Homo sapiens: one gene and its partners. The protein of the gene in region 2 purifies or fractionates together with the protein of the main gene of each other region. This does not show direct contact. Each region holds a gene or a part of one and is shown on either strand. Other genes may lie near its edges.

Region 1 (8,028 bases), on a different chromosome or scaffold from region 2:
TAGTGACTCCCAGACCCTCAGTAGGAAACAGAAGAAAAAAAAGTAAAAAATAAAAAAACCCAAAGTTGCTTCTCATCGGCAGGAAACTTTCTCCTTCGTCAAGGCCTCTGTTAGGGAGCCTGAAACGAGCAGTCCTGCGTCCTTTGGCCAGGAATCCTGTCCTCGGGGAGAAGGCCCCGGCAAGATTCTGGGGACTCAGTCACTCCAGGCTGTGGGGTCTGGAGTGGTCGGGCTGTGAGAGCGAAAGAGGCTAGTTCTTCGGGGCTTTGACTCCAGGGGCAGAAGAGCAGGCCCCCTCCACGGTCCCTTCCTAAGGCAAGCGGCGCCCGCCCCCCACCATACAGAAGTAACTCCCCACTTAGTCGTCCACCTTCCCACCCCCACAGAGACAAACACACACTCTCACACTCACACACAGTAAGCTGGGTCCGGGGGGTCAGTTTACCCATAGATCGCGTCCTTGTCCCGCTTCAAGGCGTCGTTGACAGCGGATCCCATACTGGCCGGCATGACATTGGGGTGCGGGGCGTGCGCGCCGTAGTGCTGTGTGGCGTGGAGCGGCGGCCCGTGGTTCAGGTGGTGAACCGGGGGGATCGGCCGCGGCGCGTGAGGGTCTCCGTACATGGAAGCGGGAACCCCTACTCCGTCCATCCCGCCGTAATGGGGCAGCTCATCGTACTGTCAGAACCCGGGAAGGGGGAGGGGGCGCAGGAGGTGAGGGAGAACAGAGGAGGGGGGTGGAAAGGGAAAAAGAGCAGGGAGAAGAGGGCGAACAGAAAAGAGAGGAAGGGATAAAGATGAGAGAGAGGGAGGGAGGTAAGAGAGAAGAGAGGAGGAGGAGGAAAAGGAGGAGAGGGGGAGAGAGAGAGAGAGAGAGAGAGAGAGAGAGAGAGAGAGAGAGAGAAAATAAAAATAAAAACAAAGTCAGAAAGGAGAAAAGTACCGAGCACAAGTTGAGCACACAGAAACCAAACCAGCCAAAACAACGGAGTTAAAAGTTGTGAGGAAAAAATGTTATTAAATTTAAAAATGAAAAAGCATGAACCAAGAGCAACGTTTAGAGAAGGAAGAGGAGGCGGCGAGGCCGGGGATTTGAGGGGGCGCCGGGAGGCCCCGCTCCCGCCGGAGGCAACAGAACCGTAGCGAGCCAACGGAGGGAGAAGTGGAGTTAGTGTGAGGAGGAAGCCCCGGATCCCACCCCTAACCCCCCTTCGCCTCCTCTGAGGATCCAATAAATCAAAAGGCGAAATGAAACAAAATAAAGAGAAGAAAAACGCTAATAATCAGCACGAGAACGCCGAGGACTAGGAAAGACTAGGGCCAGTGCCTCCCCGGGGGCAGGGAGCGGAGGGTGGGGGGGCGAATAACGTGAAAGTTACCAGAAACATTATTTAGCAGCGGATTCCCTGCGTCCTTGTCAATTTCAGAGACAAAACAAGCAGCCCAGGCTAGTAGTCTAGGCGGCGGCGCAGCGGCTGCGGCAGCGCGGCCCCAGCGGCGGCCCCGGCGGCGGCTCCTACGCAGCCCGTGCCCGCCCCGAGCCGCGCGAGCCACGGCGGCAGCGGCGCAGCAGCGGCAGCAGGAGAACCGGGGGAATCGCGCTGCTGGGGTAAAAGCTGGAGCGAGGCGAAAGCGTGTAACGATTGCACACGCACACACACACACCACTCACACGCACTCGCCGCCCGCCCGCTCGCACAGCGCTGGAACACGCGCGCCCAGACACGCACACACGCACGCACACACACTCGCACACACGCAGAGGCACGGGAGGGAAAGAAGCCGATGAATAATTTTGCTATTTTTTAAAATACTGGCCGCCATCATCAAGCAGCGAGCAGCAGCAGAAGCGTTGAAGGGAGAGGAGGCATCGGGACAGGCCCCTCTTAGGAGAGGATTTATATCTAGGTAAGTGTTGGAGATTTAAACCTACCCTTTGCGCCATCAGTCTGCGCTCCAATAAACTCCTGGATGTGTCGTATATTTAATATCCCAGTCCGGATAAGAAAGTGATCTAGGCTGAAGATTCCTTTTTTTTTTTTCCAAACCAAAGAGACTTCTCCCAATTCTCCAATATGCTATTTTTTAGGGGGGAAAAAAAGCCCAGTCTAGACAACGAAGAATTTTTTTTTCTGTGATATTTCTTCTTTTTCTCTTTTTTCCTCTTCTTCCTCCTCCTCCTGATCTTCCTCCTCCTCCTCCACCTCCTCCTCCTCCCCCCTCCCCTCCTCCTCCTCTTCGGTCCTCCTTTCCCCCTCTTTCTCTTCTCTTCCCCTCAGTTGGAAAAAAAAAGAAAGAAAAGAAAAAGAAGAAAAAGAAGAAAAAAATTGTCAAGCCCCCGAACTGAAGGTTACGAGCGGCCCGTCAGCAGCCCACATGTAACCGAACTGTCGTGTTTCATGGCTTTTTGCCACTCCAGCTGTCAATCAAAGCCCGGAATGTCAAGGTAGTGAATGAATGATGGTTGATGATGATGAAGAGGAGGAATCTTTCAGACCCGTTTTTTTCTTCCAGTAAAACTCCGCGAGGGGTTTCTGCTTCTTGAATTTTTTCCTCCCCCCTCCCCCCTTTTTTAGCTTTGCCCCCGCGGTATCTATAATACGATCCTCTCTCTTTAAAGTATTGTTCAAAGAAAGCAGTGAGAAAAATCAAGAAAAAAAAATGAATAGTTTGCAAAAATTGGACTTCCTCCCCCCCTTTCCTGGTAGGTATTTTGTCTCTCCCTCTCTCTCTTTCTCGCTCGCTCGCTCGCTCTCACTCGCGCTCGCTCTCTCGCGCTCGCTCTCTCTCGCTCTCTTTCTCTCTCTGGGAGATGAGTGAGTGTCAGTAGGTGTTGGCAGGTTGGCTGCTGCCTGGCTTATTGAAGAGCCTCAGTTTGGCGGCGCGGGTCGGCGGCGGGAGAACGAAATGACGGAACCCGGAAGTCGTGGTGGCCATAGCCCGTCGTACGGCGGAGACACATCCCGGGAGTGGGGAGCGGGAGCGAGGAGGAGCGCGCCGCGCCGAGCCTCTGATATGCAACGAGTGCGATCGGACAGCCCCGGCTGGGGGGGTGGGGGAGGCGGGGGGGCGGGAGGGGGAGGGGAGGCTCGAGCCGGGCGGACCCGAGCAAATCAGCAAGCCTGCTCCTCCACGGGGATGGGGGACGGCGGGGGGGAGGAAAAGGAGAGTGTGTCTGTGTGTGTGAGTGTGTGTGTATGTGTGTGCGTGCGCGCGTGTGTGTTGCGCGCGCGCGCGCGCGAACAGGGAGAGAGGGAGAGGGGGAGAGAGAAGAGGACAGGGAGAGCGCAGAGAGGAAAACTGCAGAAAACCACAGGGAAAGTACGGTACCGCCTCAGATCTTTTCATTTAAAAAAAAAAAAAAACTTACTTCTAGTTCATTTTCCCATCACTCCCGGCTCCTGCCTAACTGGGTCTTGCCGGGGACGTTTGGCATGGCGCTCTAGCTTTTGTTCCTTTTAATTCCGCGGCCTCCCTCTCCTCTGCCCGCCGATTACAGCACCCCGAAGGCTTCCTGCTAACGTCCAAGGGCAGCAAGCTCTGCAGACGGTACCACTGCCGGGCTAAATTTTTTATTAAGTGGCACTTTCTTTTCTGCGCAGATCCAGCAACCTTGTCAATACTCATTTTTTTCCAGGACCAGAAGAGACCAGCTTAACTCAGAGCACACTCCCTCCAAGCGGTGCGGACAAGGGGCCACCCCGAGAGTCTTTGGGGGCCGCGGCGGAATCGGGAGGGAGGAAGTGAGGAGGCAGTCATCTGGGTCCGATGTAGCCAAAGGCGTGTGTGTGTGTGTGTGTGTGTGTGTGTGTGTGTGTGTGTGCGCGCGCGCGCCCGCGCGCCCGTGCGCGCGCGCGACTAGTGTGCGTCTCCAAAGTGGATCTCACTCAGAGCTGGGAAGCACAGGAGGAAAAGACGGAGAGAGTGGGGGAGAAAGAAGTTGCCGGGCGAGGAGGAGTGGCCGGCGCTCACAGCCCAGCTTTGTTGTGGTCGCCCGAGGCGCAGCGGCGGGCCGCGGTAACGCCTGCTAATGGCTGTGTTAATTACACAGGGGCGATTTCGCGGGGTCAGGGAGATGGGGCCAGCTCCGAAAGAACTTTTCCAAAAAGGAAAAGGAAACGAAGGGAACTACCCCACACCGTTTGGGTGGAAACTAGTTGTGGCCGGTGCCCTGTCCTCCCTGGCCCGAGCTGCACCAGGCTTCACCTCTGCGCGGCTGGTTTCCCGGCGGCCGCGCGTCAATCACTACGAGCCCGGAGTTGGGGGCGGAGCCACGGTCACCCCGCGCAAGCCTTGCCGCCCAGCAGCCCCCATGCCCCTCGGCCCCTTGTGGCGCGGCCGGGCGGACAGGCGCTGGAAGCGCGTCCTCTCCCCAACTTCTCGCTCTCGCCCTCCCAGTCCCTGGCCCAGAGAGTGGAAAGCGGACTGTTGTTCTCCAACAGCCGCATCCCTCCCCAACTTTGAACCCATTCTGAGAAGTGGAGAGTAGTGTCTTCCGCGAGCCGCGTCTAACCGACTTTCCCGCGGAGGGAGGGTGGGATGGGGGAGGTTGATTAGAGAGAATAAAGTACTCTGTGTGTGTGTTGTGTGTGAGAGAGAGAGAGAGAGAGCGAGAGAGAGCGGGGAGGAGGGCGGGTGGGAGGGCTCTTTTTTTTGGCCCCCGTTCCATGTTCCCTGCTTCACTGTAAGCTTTCGAGCAACAGAAACTAGGCTAAGATTGCAGCCTGCAGAGACTCCAAGCGGAGTCGGAGAAATTTGGCCTCGTTTTAATAGGGCTGAGGAATGAACTCCGGAGGTCAATAAAGCCCTCCAAAAATGATGAATGATTGAGCACCTGTGATGATGATAGTGATTACCAGAGCAATTAAACAGTTTGATTAAATGAGCCATCATAACAATGATGTCTGCGGGAAATCGGCCCTCACATATAAAGAAAGATAGTGCGAAGGGGCTGGCAGAGGCGCGGATAGCGCGACGCCAGGGAGAGGGGCTGCGGGCCGCGAGGTTTCTGCCCAATGGCCCGAGCAGGGACGGCCAGACTCACGGAGCTTCAGGGAGGAGAGTGTAGCCCAGGTTTTCAGCCACTCTTTTTTGCCGGGCTTCAAGCCTGCTAGAGCCGACGGGTAGGAAATCTGAAGGTTGGGGGGAGGGTACTTCCTCCACGTCCTCTTTTTTTTCCTAGAAGAACTCCAAGATTAAAAGTATCCTTATTTGTTGCTGAGTTGCTCGTCGACATTTAAGAGAAGGTGAGTAAAAAAGAAAAGAAGATGAAAGAGAAAAGAAAAAGTTGGTCTCCAGAATTTTATTTCAATCGACAGTTACGCGAATTCAGTTTAGCCGGGACCGGGAGGTTTGAGAGTGCGGCGGGGTGGGGAGGGGAAAAAAACAAAAACGCTGCGGAGCGTTTTCGACTTTGCAAAGCTGTTGATGTTGGTGGGTCCAAGTTCCCGGTGCAGCGCCGCTGGCTGAGAAATTTGTACTCAGTTTTTACTCTTCTAATTATTCTTAAATTCAATTTAAGAATTTAAGTTTATCGTCGCCAATAGGATTATTGTTGTTTTAAATGTCTTGTTCAATAAGTGCCAGTTACGTTTCTTTTTAAAAGAAATTCCTCAGTGTCCTTGATAAACCTTTTTTTGTAAAGATCAACTTCATGCGGAACCTCTGCCTTGCAGGGTTTAAACATTCAACATTGCTACCTTCTGTTTCTTTTTCTGTTTTTATAGTGATACTGTAAAGTGAGTTAGCATCTCTATAGCTTTCATTTAGAAAAACTTAAGTCGCATTTTTAGAAAAATATTCCTTCCCTTGCAGTGTGAGTAAAAACAACTCAGACAGATTGATGATTTCTATATTTTCTTTTCTTTCTTTATCTTCTTTTTCTTTTTTTCTTTTCTTTTCTTTTTTTTTCTTTTTTTTTGAGACGGAGTCTCGCTTTGTCGCCCAGGCTGGAGTGCAATGGCGCGATCTCGGCTCACTGCAACCTCCGCCTCCCGGGTTCAAGCGATTCTCCTGCCTCAGCCTCTTGAGTAGCTGGGATTACAGGGGCGCGCCACCACGCCCGGCTAATTTTTTGTGTCTTTAATAGAGACGGGGGTTTCACCATATTGGCCAGGCTGGTCTCGAACTCCTGACCTCCTGATCCACCCGCCGCGGCCTCTCAAAGTGCTCGAATTACAGGCGTGAGCCATCGCACCCGGCCGATTTCTATGTTTTCAAACAATTGTAAGCTAATAATGAGTTGATTATCTGGTGATAATCTTGGGTTTTACAAAAAAAGAAAAGTTTAAACTTTATTTTCATGTGTTTTTATCAGATGCAGAAGGCATTTTTAACCTTAACGCCTTTCTCTGTCTCTCTCTTTCATATTCTTAACTTCTTTTGCATTTTATTGAATACATTAAAGCAAACAACAGGAACAATATGGTTAGGTGTAGGAGGGAGAGAGAAATATGACATTTTAAGATATTGTCAAAAAGTCATATTTAACTTCAACGACTTTTAGTTAAAAAAGTGTGAGAGTGTTGAAAGTGCATTCCTACTGGAGGAAATCTATGTCTTTTTAAAATTTGCCAGTTGTCTCAGGGGAGAACCCAGAATTTCTTTGAACGAAAGAGATCTTACTGATCTAGTTGCATGTCACTTATGAAACTGTTAGTTTAAAATAGCAGTCCTAGTGTAGTGGATTACACATGAGGAGATCAAGTTGGAGTCGATTCAAGGTATTGGTTCTTGGTCAGTCTGCTGAATTCAAAACACTATTACCTTTAATCAGCAACTTGCGGGTGTTTTATTAATAGAGCTGAAAAAGGCTCATCTAACATATAAGAATTTCCTGGTTTCCCTCATCCCCAATTTTCCAGTCCAATAGAAGCGATTCCAAAGGAGTAGGGTACCCGCACTTACTGATTTCCATCCTGGTGGCATTTTGCTAATGCCCCATTGTCAGCGTTGGCACTCCCACCCAGGCTTCCAGGCTCATCTGCTCTCCCATATTTGGGGTGAAAGGAAAGTAGGTGGGGCAGGCCCGGGAGACAGGCACGAAATGGGGGTCGCAGGAGGTGGCACACACCTCCGTCAACAGTCAGCTCCTTCTGCCCAGGCTGGAAATGGTTTTAACAGGCGGTAAAATTTCATCTTGCGGTGTCAAATTGGGGTCATTTTGGGGTTAGAGTTCTCAGTGTCCGAGAGGAGCTGTCCAGCTGCGTGGGGACTCATTAACTGCAAAAGATCTGTTTCAGTAAAAACAATTCAAAGACAATCAGAAGGCTAAAGACCCTCTACAAATCGCATTTTACAAGTGCCCCAGAACAAATATGGATGGTGAAACCTATTTCTTCAGAATCCCAAATCAGCTACTTAGCTCTGGAGTGGGGGTGGGGGTACTGCATAAAAAAGAGGTGAAAAGGAGGGGACCAAGCGGGTGGGGACCAGTGGAAGGGGGAATCGGGCCTCTCAAATTTAAGAGTCTGTTTTTAATCACCTCTTTCTTATTGAAGCAGCCCCAAGAGTTCTGAAAACTGCTACTTTTCTATTTTTCATTTTCTTTTTTTGAGCCAACATGGAATGCTATTATAGGTAACATTTAAGATTTAAAAGGAATAATTGAATTCCACTATAGTCCCTTAATTTGAAGGGCATTGGCTTTATGGGGAGTGTTTAATTTGAACCAAGAATTTATGAACCCAGACTCTAGGTGAATTTGCCCACACTCCTTAAGGAGCTTGTGTAGCTGTTTCTTTTTCTTTTCCTTGAAAGTTATAGCTTCTTAGCACAGATAACTTCAAATTCCTCAGAACTGAGAAGTCCAAAGTGTTAATCTGTGTATTAAAATCGCCAGGTTTAAATCCTTTTTGTCTTCTTACAACAGTTAGAACAATTGACGCCTTGCTAGAGAAGCAAATAAGTCCAACCTTAATCTTATCTGTAACTTTATTTAATGTTTTGATTTGGAATATTTTGGATTAAGCATATCTTTAAAAACTCTGTAAGGTTAATTTTTATTCCGGGAGGGAAGTTCTCTTTACT
Region 2 (7,976 bases):
AGCTTGAAGAGGACAAACGGTTGAAGGAAAAGTATCAACTGACTTTGTTAACTATTCAGAAAAATCCATAAATATTTCCTTTGTATATCGGATTCAGATTGGATTTTTTGAAATTATGGCATAAGAAAGCACATCTCTTAATTTTTAATGTGAAAAAGTTTTTTCTATTTTAAAAATTAGGATCAAAATATTTTCTTTCATACTTTTTTCCCAAGCGTGAAGTAGATGTTACTTTTAATCTTAACATCTACAGAACAAATATATATTATAGTTGAGTAAAATTAGTGTTTTCTATTTTCTAAGGATTTGGGTCGGAACTTATACAGTCAATTCTACAAAATGTACTGTATTTAAAATTTTGCAAATCAGTTCAAGTGGAAGCTTCTTGCATTTGATTCCTCGTCACATCTTTACATTGGAAATTATAAACTGTGATCTCACCTGCCTTCACTTAAGAACAATCCACAAACAGTCAATTACAATGTAAAGTAATGTTTTTATTACTGTTTTCAACAAGACAGCTCAGGGTGAGGGTAGAGGTTCAGGAGAGGGAGGAGCACAGTCTGACATTGGCACTGAGAACGTTTAACATCAGTAAAACTTTTTTTTAAAAGAGAAATTTTACATATAGTTAAATAATTTTTTCACTTGGTGACAACATTCAGGCAACCAAAAGCAAAACGAAATGGGGGGGGGGATGGGGTGGAGAGAAAAAGGATAGGGGGAAAGAAGGAAAAGGGGGGGGAACTACTATACATTGATTTGAAAATGTACCTTGGGTTTCATTTTGTGGTGGCGGAGCCCGATTGCTTCTTTTGTGTGACCTTTTAAATTCACATTGTTTGGAAGAAAACGATCACTTTTGTGCAAGAATGTGATTTGTTTTGGTTGGGTTGCTCTCTTTTTGTTTGCTTCTTAATTAATGAAGGTCTTCTGCCGGATTCCTATTTCAGGTGACTTACATAAAAGTTTGTGTCCAGAGTTTCTGCTGTTTATAGCAGAGTTGTGTGTCTGAGAGAGCACGCCCGTTTGTGTCGCTTTTCAAGCAGTCCCCAGCACCCTATAGTTTGTCCAGGCTTTTGGGATTGGTGAGAATTTCCCTGGCCAACCTCCAGGTCTGCTTGGCAGCGCTCTCCAGGGCCGAATGGGGCTTGCCCTGAAAGAGGTCGAGGTTGGGCAGAAAGTAGTGAGGGCAGCGGCGGCACTGCAGGCAGGAGATGAGCTGCAGCAGGATGCCGTTGAGCCGGTCGCCCAGGCACGACTCGTCCCAGTCCGTTTCTCGTGGGTGTTTCTCGCACTCGTACAGCAGCAGCGTCTTCATGTGGTAGTTGTTGAGCGGCTGGCCGGGTAGCTCCAGGTGGCGGTCCCGCAGAGTCTTCAGCACTGAGAGGCACTTGTTTCGGCAGCCGCCCATCAGCAGGCGGTTCTCCGCCTCCCCGAACTGTAGCACCCAGGCGTCGCTCTCTGCCGAGCTCTGCTTGCCGGTCAGCGAGTAGCACTCCTTCGAGAGCAAGTTGAACCCTTCGGCCTTGACCTCGGCCACCCGATTGGGGCCGGGCCAAGGGATGTGGGGCATAGGCCACTGTGCCGCGCTGCGAGGCCAGATCCCGGTGCACTTGAACGCCGGAGTGATTTGCACCACATAGCGCTCCCTGATGCGCAACTTGACCTCGCTGGTGTCCGCGATCATCTTGACCACATCCCGATAGCTGCACTTGTCCACCGCCTGGGCCACCAGCGTCTGGAAACGCGAGCGGATCTTACGCGCTGAGAGATAGCCCGACGCCGTGATGAACTCGACCCAGAGAGACATGCTCCGCTTCCGCCCATCGCTCAGTTTGAGCACTGCGCAGCCGGGCAGCGAGCCGTCGTCCACGAAGTTGAAGACGCCCATCTGGTTTAGGTAGAGCACCACCTCAAATTCGGTGGGCGAAATGACCTCGAGCCCCTCGTAGCGGGCATCGATCTCGCTCAAGGAGCTGATGAAGCGAGGCTCCTGCACCTCCACTTCCTTGAGCACGTCCGAGACCACCTTACAGACCTCTCGGATGGTTTTGGCGATGGCCGCCTTGCGCGCCTGACAGCGCTCAGTGTAGTACTTATTGAGCTGGTAAACCAGCTTGGCCTGAGCGGCGATCATGTTGGGGCACAGGTCCGGGCTATACACCGGCGTCTCGCAATACGTTGAGGGATCCAAGGCTCACGCACTGGTGGTGGCCCAGCGGCTTTCGAAAGAGGCGGTGCGCTCCCCGTTAAGCCCTACTTTCACTCTCGTTTTCCACCTGGGCTGACCGGCTGATACCGTAGCCGGCTTGTTTTTTCCTTTTCCCTCTTTCGAAACCTCTTTTCTTCTGCAGAAGAATTAGGGGAGAAAAGGTGATTTTCTAAAAAGAAAAGTACCTCTTGGAACCTTTTTGCTTTCTCTTGATATGTAAAGATGACCGTGTGCGAGAGAAGCGGGGTGGGCGTGAGGAAGGAGAAGGAGAGGGAAAAAACTCAGGATACCAAAAGGTTAGGCTTAGATGTCTGCAGCCGAGATTGTCCAGAAATCTGGAAATGAGGTTTTTTAAGTGCCAAAGTAAATTTAAAAATAAAAGCGAAACATTCAGTGGTTCATTCTTAAACTTCTCTTCCACGCTGATAGGACTTCTTCGCTCAGTGTAGGTGAGTGCCTTCTTCCTCACCCTCCCCCAAATGGAAGGTGCAGGAGGTAATTAATGTCCAGAGAGCTGCGAAGTACAACTCAGTCCGCCGTGCACTTGGAGGTTTGCTGACGCCCCACAGTCTCAGCGTGTTGGTCTCGTCTCTTCTCGGGGGGTCGTGTTATCGCAGTTTTCCTCTTTTCCTACTGGAGGCGTTGTTTGGACTGGGTTTGTTTGTTTGTAGTGGGTTCTCCTTGTGTTTCTTTAGGTGCAAACCGCTGGAAGTTGTTTGATAATCATTTCTGCTTCGTAATTTATACTTTTGGCCCTCACAAAATCCGTTTTAGTGTGACGAAGTCGTTGCTTGCGTTGCATCTGGGGTGTAGTTATAACGATTCAGGGTTTTCCTTCTTCTCCTCTAGCTTGCTTTTACAGATTCCACTTTCTGAGTCGTCTCTCCCCCTCCTCTCCCCTCCGACCTCTTTCTCGCCCCGCTCTCCCCCTGCTTCTCTCCCCCGCCCCCCTTCCTCGTGCTCGCTCTCTCTTCTTTCCTCTAACTCTCTCTGTCTCTCTCTCTCCCTCTCTCTTTCTTTCTCTCTCTCCCTCGCTGTTTCCTGGAGTTATTTAGTTTATGAATGGTCCCAGGGCCATCATGAGGGGGTGGAGCTTCAGTTCCTACAATCGCTATCCGAGCTGTCAGTGCTTTAGCCAATCCGAGAGAGAAGACAGGCACGCTTGGCGAACGGTAGCAGCCACCACTGCACTTGATAAAGAAACAGGGTAAAGAGAGAAGTAAGAAAATAGGAGGAGATAATGGGAGTCAAATGCTTGCACACATTTTACAGCCGTTCCTCTTTATCCTCCTCTCTTATCAGTAGCAAAGAAGAAAAAGAGTTTATATAGAAGGGACTCTCCTGGAGATGGCTGGAATAACGCGAGGGAGAGTAGCAATGGTTCAGAAAGGTTCACTTTTTTTTTTTTTAAATGATTCTATCAACATTGTGTAGTAGAAGGTGCAAACTGTAACAAAATTACTTTGGCTTGAAGGCAAATGGGAAGCGAAAGGGGAATCTGGGAAAGGACCTAATTTTTCCAGGTTTTTTCCTCCTTTAAAGTCATCCTCCTTTCTCTTCCCCTCCCCTCCCATTGTTGCCAAGAATCAGAGCAGTTGCTGTATATGTGCACCAGTGAGGGTTGGAGTGGATATAAGGTGAGGGTTTATAAATCTCTTTTTAGTAATTTCGATATGCTGTTTAAAAACAGGGCAGGGCAAAAACTAGTCCAAGCACCTTGTTTGATAATTATTTCATAATTAAGATTCACATGTATTTAATACCATTATTTTATCGTTACAAGAATTAACTAGTTACGAGAGAGAAAATATCTAAGTTGTGAGAAATGGTGCAAACTTACATGTCGTAGAACTTAGTAGGATATACTTTTAAAATAAGCTACTAAAATTGCTTCAAACTTAATGAAAAACAAGGCAAGTAAATGTAAACCTAAAGTTTTCTTAAAATCTTACTGTTGTAAATCTAATTGTGAATGTATTCTTAGGGGGTACAGGTACAGAGTTTCATTTGTAAAATGATTTTATTTTCATAATTGACTCTTGCTTTTAAAAGACTTCACTGCCACAAAAATCTATAACTATCCTGTTATTGATTACACAGATGGCTTCACTCCTCCCTAGGCATTTCAATGAAAGGCATGCATGTGCTTTTAGTATATGTATTATCCTAAACGAGTTGTACCCACTGTAGCCTTTCCATACTTTTGGGTGAAAAAAAAAGCTAGAACATTGTTTCTGATTTGCTTGATACTGAGGGTTTATGTATGAACCTAAGATGTCTGGATTCTGAATCTTTTTAACGTATTTCAGGTAGATGTGATTATTTTTAGTTTGATTTGGGAGGTTATATTCCAGCCCTGGGTTATGCGATAAAAATAAAAATCTATGCGTCCATTTGGGTGAAGACTTCGTTTTAGAAACCTGGTAGTTCGGCTTTTTCAAAACCCCTTGGGAGGGCTTGACTTACCCTCTTAAAGTCCGGCCGGGTGAACCTGAATTGAATTGCATAGGGAAGTTAATTTCTTTCTATCTACTTGGTATCAGACAATTGGGCCTCTTGGTTCTTTCTTACATACCTGGTGCGGACCACAGGCAGTTTGTCACCCTTCCTCTCTCGTTGCCATAAGTCCCTTTCTAAGGAATATTTGCTTAAAAAAAAACTATCTCGGATTTGTTGCTTAGGGTTTGTCTTCCCGCGATTAGGAAGAAGAGTCAGAATTAAGTGTCCGCGCGACTCTTGGACTCCAGAGCTTTAGTTAACTTCTCTGGAGTGGCAGAGACTTGGGCTGCTTGACCTCCAGCCTTCTCCGGGGAGGCCGCGTGCGTCCCGGAACGCCTCGCCGCCTAAGGATCTAGGGGACCTCGCGCCCTCGGAGTTCGCGCCTGTGGGAGCCCGGCTCTAACCCGGGAGGCCTTGCCGGCGCTCTGGGAACTGCCTGGGCCGGAGGGCACTGCGCTGCCGGGAGAGCGCGACTGGCCGGGAGGGGCTCCGTGGTTGCTTCTCCGGGGGCAGTTACTGGGCGGAGACTGGTGGCGGGGATAGAGGGTGCGGAGCTTTCCCGCCCCACTCTCGAGGTGGTCGCTTCGTCGTTGCGTCTGGTTCGCGAATGGCCCGGCCCGCGACGCTCCCGAGAGTGAGTGTTTGCAAACAGCCTCAGGGGTGGCGGAGTTGGTTCGCATGGCTCCGCCGCCGCGCCGCAAGTCCTGCGCCTTCTCCTCTTCTCTCGGGTGGGGCGTCCCAGGCCGAGCGGACCTTCGCGCCACCACTCGCCGGACACTCCGCTGCACCTCCACTGGCGGCTCTGTCAAGCTCGGCTAAGTTTTCTCGCATCCTTGCCCCTACGCTTCTCCACTTTTACATACAGAGGGAAGGATGATAAAACGTTACAAATGTTTTGATTTAAAAACAATTCATTACCAATTTACCCTGTCTTAGGTAGATGCTCTAGTAAATAATAAATCAGTTAAACAAAGGCGACTTTAATTTATGGCCGTGGTACTAATTAGAAACATCATTCGAGCAATAAACTTAAACACTTCCAGCAAATAATGCTCCCTCTTGCTGGTTCTCTTTCTCCCCCCTCCCCCACCCCAACTCACTCTGGCTGCCTCTGCTCTAAGAGCAGCTTCAGCTGCGCCTTTGCGGTCCTCTCTTCCTCTGGTTGAATAATTGAAGGGGGAAACGGTATCCGAGGAGGCTGTAATTGAAGAGCCCCTGTCACCTCTGCTTTTATGTATGTTAGTATAGAAGTCCATCAGCAGCTCCTTGATGGTGTATTAAAACGAACTGGCAGCTCCTTCTGCAGGAGATACTATATTCTATTAAAGGAGACCAAGTGAGAGAAAGAAACTCTAGAGGCTAAAAGCCACTTCAAGTCTTCAGACCGATTCATCTGTATTCTCTTGTTATAATCCGTCTCATCATACTTGAGTTAATGAGGCAAAGGAGGGGGTGCGAAATCTGATGGTCCTTGACAAATTCATTAGGGAGGCTGCAGGACATTTTATTTGACTGTTAAACATCTTGTTTGTTTGGCTTAGGCAGTGCCAACATTGGCATGCTTCAGCCCAGAGCTGTGGTGCTGGGCTAGCTGCAGGACATTCCTAAAAAGGGAAGGAGGACATTCAGGGTGTGATCTGAATTTTTTGTTTTGGATATCAGGTAGTCCGTAACCTTCAGACTTCTCTAGGCTTTACCTCTTGCATCATTACATTAGGAACATAAAGAATGTAGGTGATAGTACTGAAGTGGGCATGTTTTTAGTTACTATAAACTAAAATATGAGGATGTTTAAAACTTTAGTCTGAAAATTTCCCAGTTTCTTCAAAAAATTGAGTCAGGTTGTAGTAATTACGGTACTAGTTTTATAGCAATGTGAATGTTTAAGGTCCAGTCAAATAACCAGATTACTCATTACATCCTATTTTTACTTATCATGGTTAAATAAACTTTTAATTATTAATGGAATTTCCTATTTCACCGAAACCTTTATGAGTACAGAAACTTGGAAATAAAAAATTAACTATTTATACAAATATATTTTCAAAAAAAATTGGCATATTTTAAGGAAATTTTTATAATTAAAATTAGAAGCAAAACTGAATACTTGGTGTTAAAATAAGGTGATGAGTTGACAGAGTACTTTAAAAAGTGAAAATATTTCTAATTGAAGAATAATGGGTAATTAAGCTAGAATGCTAACCTTACAATGTTTTATTCTAAGATAATAATACAGTATTAGATTTATCAACATGTCCTTGAAAAGTAGTAAATAATCCAATTGTGATACTTTCTTGCATAGAGAATTCAGTTGTATTTTTCCTTCAGCATTGACTGAGCTTGAGCTTAAGTGCTTTGAGAAAGAATCCTGTCTTCCATTTATAGGAAAACAGTATGGAAGTAAAAAAACCTAATGCCCTTTGCCTGTCATTTTTATACATTCCTGCACTGCTGATGAAGCTTGAACGGCTGCAGGGAATGTATGGATTTGAAAAGAAATGATGCAGTAGTTCATGTTGTGTTTCTCAGGAGCCAAACCAAACTAATGGCTGAAGTCAGTGCTTCTGTAATCTGACAGTTATAATCCTGTTTATGTTTCCAGAGAATACAAAATTCTTAAACTGTTTTATTTTTTGCTGATCTTTACTTAAAAATGTATTTACTGAGTTAACGTCAGTGCATTTGTTACTTTATCATGTTAACGAGACTTAAAAGGTATCTATTATTTTATTATCTGTAAAAATAATATATTGTATCTCAATAATCTTTACTAAAGAGTAAACAAATTTTAGAATACATGATCTTATTTTCCAGGAAATATTTTAGAAGCTTTCAAAAAATAATCAGATTATTGACTTAAGAAAAGAAAGCATTTCTGGAGGATTTATACTTTTTGGAAAACAAAGGACCACGTGTTTACTGGTATATAGTCTTATCCTCTAAATTCTAACTTTGAAACATCTATGTGGGTGCTACATTTTTAGTTCTTATATACTTAATCATTCTACATACTTATGAAAATGCTTTTTTTTTTTAAAAAAATGAACATTGATTTTTATTTTTGGTCAAATTGTAAATGAGGAAATAAAACACTATTAAGTTCTCTGAATTTAAAAATTATTTCACTAAAAACAGAAAGAAAAGTAAATAACCCAGATATGATTTGTTAGTGTATTCTAGTTGATGAAATTTTATTGAAGTAATTATATTTAAATATATGTAAGATGTGTTAATGACAGTCATCAAGATTATACTGTCCACA
Region 3 (7,028 bases), on a different chromosome or scaffold from region 2:
GAGTCTGGCTTTAAAGACCAGGTCCTTAACCACTACTATTATAGTTTATCATAAAATTATTTAAGCAACTTTTCTATGGTCTTATAACTACTTAGTAGAAGGTCCAGAACTAGCACAGAGTGTGAGGTATACCCACCCCAATACCTACTTAATGACAAAAGTTTCAGTAGAAGATGCAGTTGAAACTACAACCTAAACCAAAAAGGATGAATTTTCCACCCATTGCAATCTCAATTTCCACCAATAATTGAGAGATTGAAAGAGAGCTGTTAGAGGTAAGAAGACCTTCGGGTAAGACACTATTGACCTTATTCTGCCATCATGGGGGATAGGTGTTATAATCTTATGACAATCTATTCCTGCACCTTTTTTCCCCTCTGGGGATCACTCTGCTAAGTTCCGAGAAGTGCCATCTTTGAGATGCAGATGGGGCAAAGATACAACCAGAGAACTTTCCTCATGAGCGACGATCGATTACCCCATTACTTAAAGACCAGTAGACGTACATTTTTTTTAGCCTGAAAGAGTGAAATGCAGTGATATCCTGTGAAATAAGATATGAATCCTGAGATAATTTATTATAGAAAATACAGTGCCTTAATTATTTACATAACCCACAGGAACTCAAAGCACTTCACAAACAACTCATGAATTCTCTACTTATTTATCAATTATTGCATTCCTTAAATCTTACCACACCATTGCAGGTAAAGGGCAATGGAACCAAAATTATTATATTCCTCCAAATCAGGTTAATATGGCAATGAAAATGAATGGGTGCTTCTTAGGGTCATAAGAGAATGAATAAGAGCTGTTTGGAGCTGGACCTAGGACACTGTCTCTATCATGTGGTGCTTTGGTAAACTTTTTTTTTAAAGGAAAAGCAATAAAAAGAATATTTAGATTCGCTTCACCAAGTTCAAACATAGTATCATCCATCTAAAAGAGATTTGAAACCAAATTGAAGAATAAGCTTTCCTAAGATATGCCTATGACACAAAAGAAGTCAGGGTCATGCTTTACAAATGAAAATGTCTTCCAATTTAAATTATGTGCAACATCTAGGTTTTGGTTTATTTGCTCGTTTGGGGGTATTTTTATAATTTTGCCAACAACCACAACAAAAAGTTCATGGATGTCAACAGAATGCAGGGGCAAAACCATGTGAATAGGTCTGGCACCAGCAGTGAACTAAACACACAGGCAGGTAATGCCCCCTTCTCAGCCAACAGTGCAGCCTACTGTACAGAACCCACCCACACCCGGCCCAGCTCAATGCCCCACAGCTCTTAGTTCACAAGGTTCTATGTTTCCCCGCTTATAAATCCCCTTCCAGATCCTTCAGTATAACCTAAATCGCTCTCATGTCCAATCCTCACAGACACTCCTATTGTTAGAAAAAAATGACACCAAAATTTCCCAAATTCTCATTCTGGCAGCTTTGACCAAATTGCTCTTTGCACTTCTCAAAAGCCAGAATTGTTCTAATTCTAGTAGTAGACTAAAAATGGAATACACAAAAGTGACTAAAAAGAAAAGTCATTTCTCATTACAAGTTCTTCTTATATTATGTCTGTCAGAGTTATATTGTTGTAGGTCTACGGCTTATATCCACATTATAATAAATAAATAATATAGGGTCTAACCACATTACTTCTGCCTTAACACACTGTACCTGAAAGATAGCATCAGGTAAAACTGATTTGTAAGTTCCTTTCATTTGATCCCCTTTTCTTTCCTCTGCATCTTTACCAGGAGGGAGAAAAAAAAAAAATGAACCAAATTCTTGAATTTTCTCATCAGCAAGAAAAGTTTTTGCATTTGCTGGCTATCGATGACCTTCTACAAAAATGACTCCTACCACTTCAACCCCAAAAGGAATCTGATCAGAGGCTGCTTCTAAATGGTTTAAAGTTATTTTACTCCTATTTTGCTCAAGGCCTAATACCATCAGAATTCTCTTCCCGCAATCTCTAGCTTCCTTCCATAACCCACCGCCCCTCCACCTACATATGCAAACATACACACACACATATACATAGACACACAAATTATTCTCTAATGCTTTAAAGGGGAGAGGAGAGGAGAAGTCCCATAATGTAATTGCTATATTAAAAAGAAGTGGCAGGCGAGAATAATAAGGGAGGGTGTCAAAAGTGAAATAAAGTAGTAGAATTAAAAAAACACACACACACTACAGTTCTGTGATGGGGGTGTTAATTGAACACAGAGAGAAAAGGAAAGAGAGAGAACAAAAGGGTGTTAAGGAGCAAAAAATAAATTTTTTTAACCTCCTCCAAAGATTTGATTTGCGTTAACTTTGATGCAGACAATGCACAGAGGAAAATTGGCTGAAAAGTGCCATATATAGCTATTATGTTCTAAAATTAAAAACTATTCACAACAATTGCAGCTATTCATTGCTATCTATAAATATTCTCCTTAGTAAATGGCATTCAATATTTTTCGTGTTTTCCTAATTTTTAAACTTGCGTGATTTTGACACAGGAATAAAAAACATCAGGAAATGTTTAAAAATATATTCAAGGTTTTTTTAAAGAAATGTAATATGCTTGACTTTTTCTCCTTTTCTTCTATCCCACCAACCCCATTACCACCATATATACACATATGCAAAACTTAGCCTATTACTAATATGCCAGAAGACAAGGAATGGATCTTAAAAATCCAAAAGAAAGTGTTATATTAAATGATCCAAAACTCTAATTGTCTCTGTATTCCTAGAATGAGCGAGCAGATAAAAGCCACATGTGAAATATACATTGCTATAGGTCTTGACAGGGTTTTTTAGCTGCTCTTTGAGAATTGCCACCCGAGCATTTTGCTGGCACTTCTTCTTAGCATTTATTTTTTTAAAAGCGAAAATGTATCAGAATAAAAACTACCCACATTCTGAAGCAAGAAGATGCATGGGTTCTTTTGTTTTGTTTTGTTTTTTAAATATCCCCACAGTAATTTCTGACTTAAACACCCATCAATCAATTGTAATTCAGATGGCACCTTCTACTTTGGGGTGTTACGTGCATGTGTGTATGTATTTTTAAAGTTCCAAAAGGTTGGTAATACATCTTAGCCAGTTTTTGTATCTATTTCTAAGTCTTCCAACTATAAAATCATTAACAAATGCAAAAAAGCAAAAATAACAAATCAATGCAATTACCAAGTTCCTCTCAAGAGTTCTGCCTAGGTGAGCCAAATGTATGAACTTCGTGTTAGAATACAAACAAACAAAGCCCACCCTAAATCAAGTAACCTCTATTATTATTATAAGCATTATAATGCTTGAGATGGAAACTCAAAAATACTCATTTAATGCAAAAAGGCTTGAAAGTAACAATAGAAAAAGTCCCCAAACAATAAAGGAATGTATGTGAACTGATCACTCAAGCGATGTTTTCACCAGCTCTGTATCAAGAAGAAGAGGGGGAAAAAAAAAAAAAAGCTCCTGCAACTTTACAGACACTTTGTTCCTCCGACCCATCAACTGCATGAAAGATATGCTGGCAAAAAGATTGAAGGTTCCAGGGTCTTGAGTAGCCAAGTAATCGTGCTTTAGAATCAAAGGGTTCTTTTCAGCAGACCACAGTTGACTCCTACCTTTAACACAACACTCAACATTCCAGGAGAGGTTTTTGCCTTCCCTTCAATCCTTCCAACACACAAGTTGAAGACTAAGAGGGAGGTAAGCCTTTTTTTTCCCCTACTTTCACCCAGGGGTGCCCTCTTAATCCAAGACTTGTGTGTGTGTGTGTGTGTGTGTGTGTGTGTCCCTTAACACAGGGGGCAATGACTCTTATCACTTTCAATTACATTATTTGTAAATTGTTTTTTTAAATATGTTATTCTAGAGACAACACAAAAAACCTTAATTTAGATTTTTTTAAGTCTCTAAACATTAAATGTATTGACACAAAATTTAAAATACAAAACTTTTAGAATGTTACTTTGACCAATACGACTGACTACTTTACTTCCTATCATTATACTTGAGCCAACATGAACAAGGAGCGAACTCTTTAACCCTCACCTGAACCGGATCTCTATTCACACCCACCCACTTTAATCTACTGCCTCAGTAGGTTTTAATTAGGAAACTAGAATTAAGCACTTTGGCCACAATGTACATTTAAGTGCCCTGACAGGCTTCCTTTCAATAAAAATCTGATAAAGTATCTTCAAAAATAGACTCTCTTTAGTCCATATTATCACATATGCTTTTATATTTTGATTCTACATTTCATGAAACAAGATCAGCAGGAACTCATACTTGGTTAGAAACAAATCTCAACAAACCAAACACTCAAAGTAAATAAGCATCAGAGATCAAAGAAGAAAAAAGAGAGAAGATAAAAAAATATATATAAATATATATATACACACACACTTAAGTTTCCTACTCTGGGCTAATAGAAAAAAGAAACTAAAAAGTGTGACAAACTGGAAAAAACTCTTTTGATATTTGAATGCACAGTCCATAAATCTTTTAAAAGTTGTCTCACAGCTAAAATAATGCAATTAACAGGTTTGCAATAAGGTTAAGCTTTGGCAAGGCAACCTGGAAGACTTAGAGGTCTGAACATCACTTCTCAGGTGCTTTGTCTAGAATGTTATGCACAACACAAATAACATTCAACAAAGGAGCTGCGTACTAATTTTACACGCATTTCAAGACCCAAGTAATTACATATTCATTCAACAGTCACATCTTGAAACTATTTTTTTAAAAGAAAAACACAGAGAGCTCTCAAAAAGAAAGCCACCCTGTGTGCCCTCTCCCCCCGCCCATTTTTTATGTGTAACTATCAATGTATATCAACCAAGCATGCAATCATATTTATTGTCACTTTCATTCATGTCATGCCCTTGCTTATATGGTTTAGATATGAATTATTGACTGTTACACTCCTTGTTGTAAAAAATAAATAAATAAATAGGATGTCAGGTACTTTGCACTGCTCTAAAGCGAGCGGGTAAGTCAGAGCCCAGCAGAAGCTCCCGCTTTATATAACCACCCCTTGTCCCTCATCTTTATTCCCTGGTTTCAGATTGCCTTCTCAAATCTTTCTTCTTACAAGGGAGAGCTTTACCCACTTTGGAAAATTAAGGATTAAAATAAACAAGGGGATGTCGCTAAATGTCCTTCCCAGAGCATCTGTTGTTTAAGAACACCTCTGATTGATGACTGCTATTTTTTAATTGTTGCTTTAAAATTTAAATGCCCTCCTGGGATGTGTTATAAGTGTGTTAGTCCACGAAACGAGGTCTAGAAAGTAGAAAAACAACAGAGTGAATTATCTCATGGCGTTATACTCTCCTAAACCCAACGATTCTCCCTGCAATAAAATCACAGGCCACTCAAATACCGATAACCTAATGTTGTATAGCGCATTCCACAAAGGTATTTGACAACACTCTCTGTTGAGAACCTCTAGTCTGCTGCTTTGTGTAATTACAAGAAAAAAAGGAAAGGAAACTTTCAACAGTTTAGCACCCCCACACCCAACTCCAAAAAAATTAGGGTTTTAAAAATGGGCCAAAATATATTCCTTAAAAAAATGAACTTTTACTTTCATATTTTTGCCCCAAAGATACATCAGTCTATAAATTTCCTTTCAGAATCTATATTTTAGCCCCAATCTCAAAAAGGCTGGAAATAGAGTTCTGGAAAATTAACCAGTAGTGCTTGATAATAACTGTCAAAGAAACTTGATTCTTTTTTTTAAGGAAAGCAGGGCTAGGACTTCCTATTCGAATATGAGGTCAACCTTCATAGTACTTGTATTCTGAAATTTTAATATTTAAATAATAGATTTGTGACTGCTGGTTAAGTGATTTAATTGGCCAAAGAAAATGCTAAAATGTTGGAATCTCATTCCTACCTGTTTTTTCTTTGATTTCACACAACACATTAAACAAGGCAGGCTTCATTCTGTGGCAGTTTAAAGCATGTTTTCTGCAAGAAAGAAACAACATGATAGCTTAGGTGGACTCTCAAGATCAAACTGCCGATAATGCACAGGGTGAAAACATTTGAACATTTAGACAAAATTATATACCCAACCCTAACTCTGTGGCATGCTTCAGTTGTTTTCATGACTTAATATACAGAGTCCCGCCATAGAAAAAGAAATAATGTTAATTAGCAGGGAGAGGGTAGGGATTTAACTACAGAACAGAACTAACCTAAATTATGCCCATTTAGGGAAAGGGTTTTTTTTTTTTTTTAAGTAGTTTAATCAAAGAGTAATTCTTAAACCCACAATTCTTCCCAGGACAATGAACACAGCAAAGCCAAAGGTGTAGGTTAACAGTTTTGTAAAATCCATGCAACGACCACAGCCTAGGAACTGTCTGCCTCTCGGTCTGTGTGTTTTCAAATTTAATTCATCCATGTGTTCGAATTCATTCCGCAGATGCCCCTGTATTCTCATAAACACAAGATGCTTGAAAGGTCTTCTGAGTAGAACTGTCAATTTATAACATTTCAGTCCCCAAGTTAAAGAGTATGGAAATGCATTGCCAGGGGGCAAACATACCCATATGGGGAATAAATTCATTTCTCTGTGTTCACATTATGCTTCTGTGCACACACTGCTTATTTGCAGGTGTTGAAATTCAATTATTTACAATTAGGACCTTGCACCCATTGGGGGAAAAATAAATGCAATTTTGTCTTTTAGATTAGTGATTTACCTGGTGTGTGTGTGTGTGTGTGTGTGTGTGTGTGTGTGTGTGTGTATTCTGAATGCACTTGAGGAACAAAACAATACCTTTCCTTCTATTTTATTATGGAACCACTTAGCAGAATGATACTGTTTTGGAAACAAAATACTGATCATATCAGCTATTAGTTAAGTGAATTCTGTCTACTAACTAAAATTAATGTGTAAAGATAAATGGAAAGTTCTGGCACTCAAAACACATGCAATTCTTTTTTAATCCCTTTGAAAGTTAAAAAATAGACACATCCTCATGAAGAACAGAGATCAGAAACATGCCCTATGTAC

What was found.
Region 1: the proteins of MAB21L2 (region 2) and MEIS2 purify together in Homo sapiens (affinity purification with mass spectrometry; 4 studies listed by BioGRID and IntAct, with this or other methods). This does not show direct contact.
Region 3: the proteins of MAB21L2 (region 2) and PBX1 purify together in Homo sapiens (affinity purification with mass spectrometry; 3 studies listed by BioGRID and IntAct, with this or other methods). This does not show direct contact.

The regions. Positions count from the first base shown.
Region 1 is NC_000015.10:37,097,522-37,105,549, forward strand, and holds the start of MEIS2 (homeobox protein Meis2), read right to left. Parts: upstream 3,029-8,028; 5' UTR 1,946-3,028; coding exon 1,934-1,945; intron 1,909-1,933; exon of another isoform or gene 1,727-1,908; intron 1,586-1,726; exon of another isoform or gene 1,380-1,585; intron 1,176-1,379; exon of another isoform or gene 679-1,175; coding exon 446-678; intron 1-445. UniProt on the Homo sapiens protein: Involved in transcriptional regulation. Binds to HOX or PBX proteins to form dimers, or to a DNA-bound dimer of PBX and HOX proteins and thought to have a role in stabilization of the homeoprotein-DNA complex.
Region 2 is NC_000004.12:150,577,194-150,585,169, reverse strand, and holds MAB21L2 (protein mab-21-like 2), read right to left. Parts: upstream 3,020-7,976; 5' UTR 2,141-3,019; coding exon 1,061-2,140; 3' UTR 477-1,060; downstream 1-476. UniProt on the Homo sapiens protein: Required for several aspects of embryonic development including normal development of the eye.
Region 3 is NC_000001.11:164,562,184-164,569,211, reverse strand, and holds part of PBX1 (pre-B-cell leukemia transcription factor 1), read right to left. Parts: intron 5,975-7,028; coding exon 5,901-5,974; intron 1-5,900. UniProt on the Homo sapiens protein: Transcription factor which binds the DNA sequence 5'-TGATTGAT-3' as part of a heterodimer with HOX proteins such as HOXA1, HOXA5, HOXB7 and HOXB8. Binds to the DNA sequence 5'-TGATTGAC-3' in complex with a nuclear factor which is not a class I HOX protein.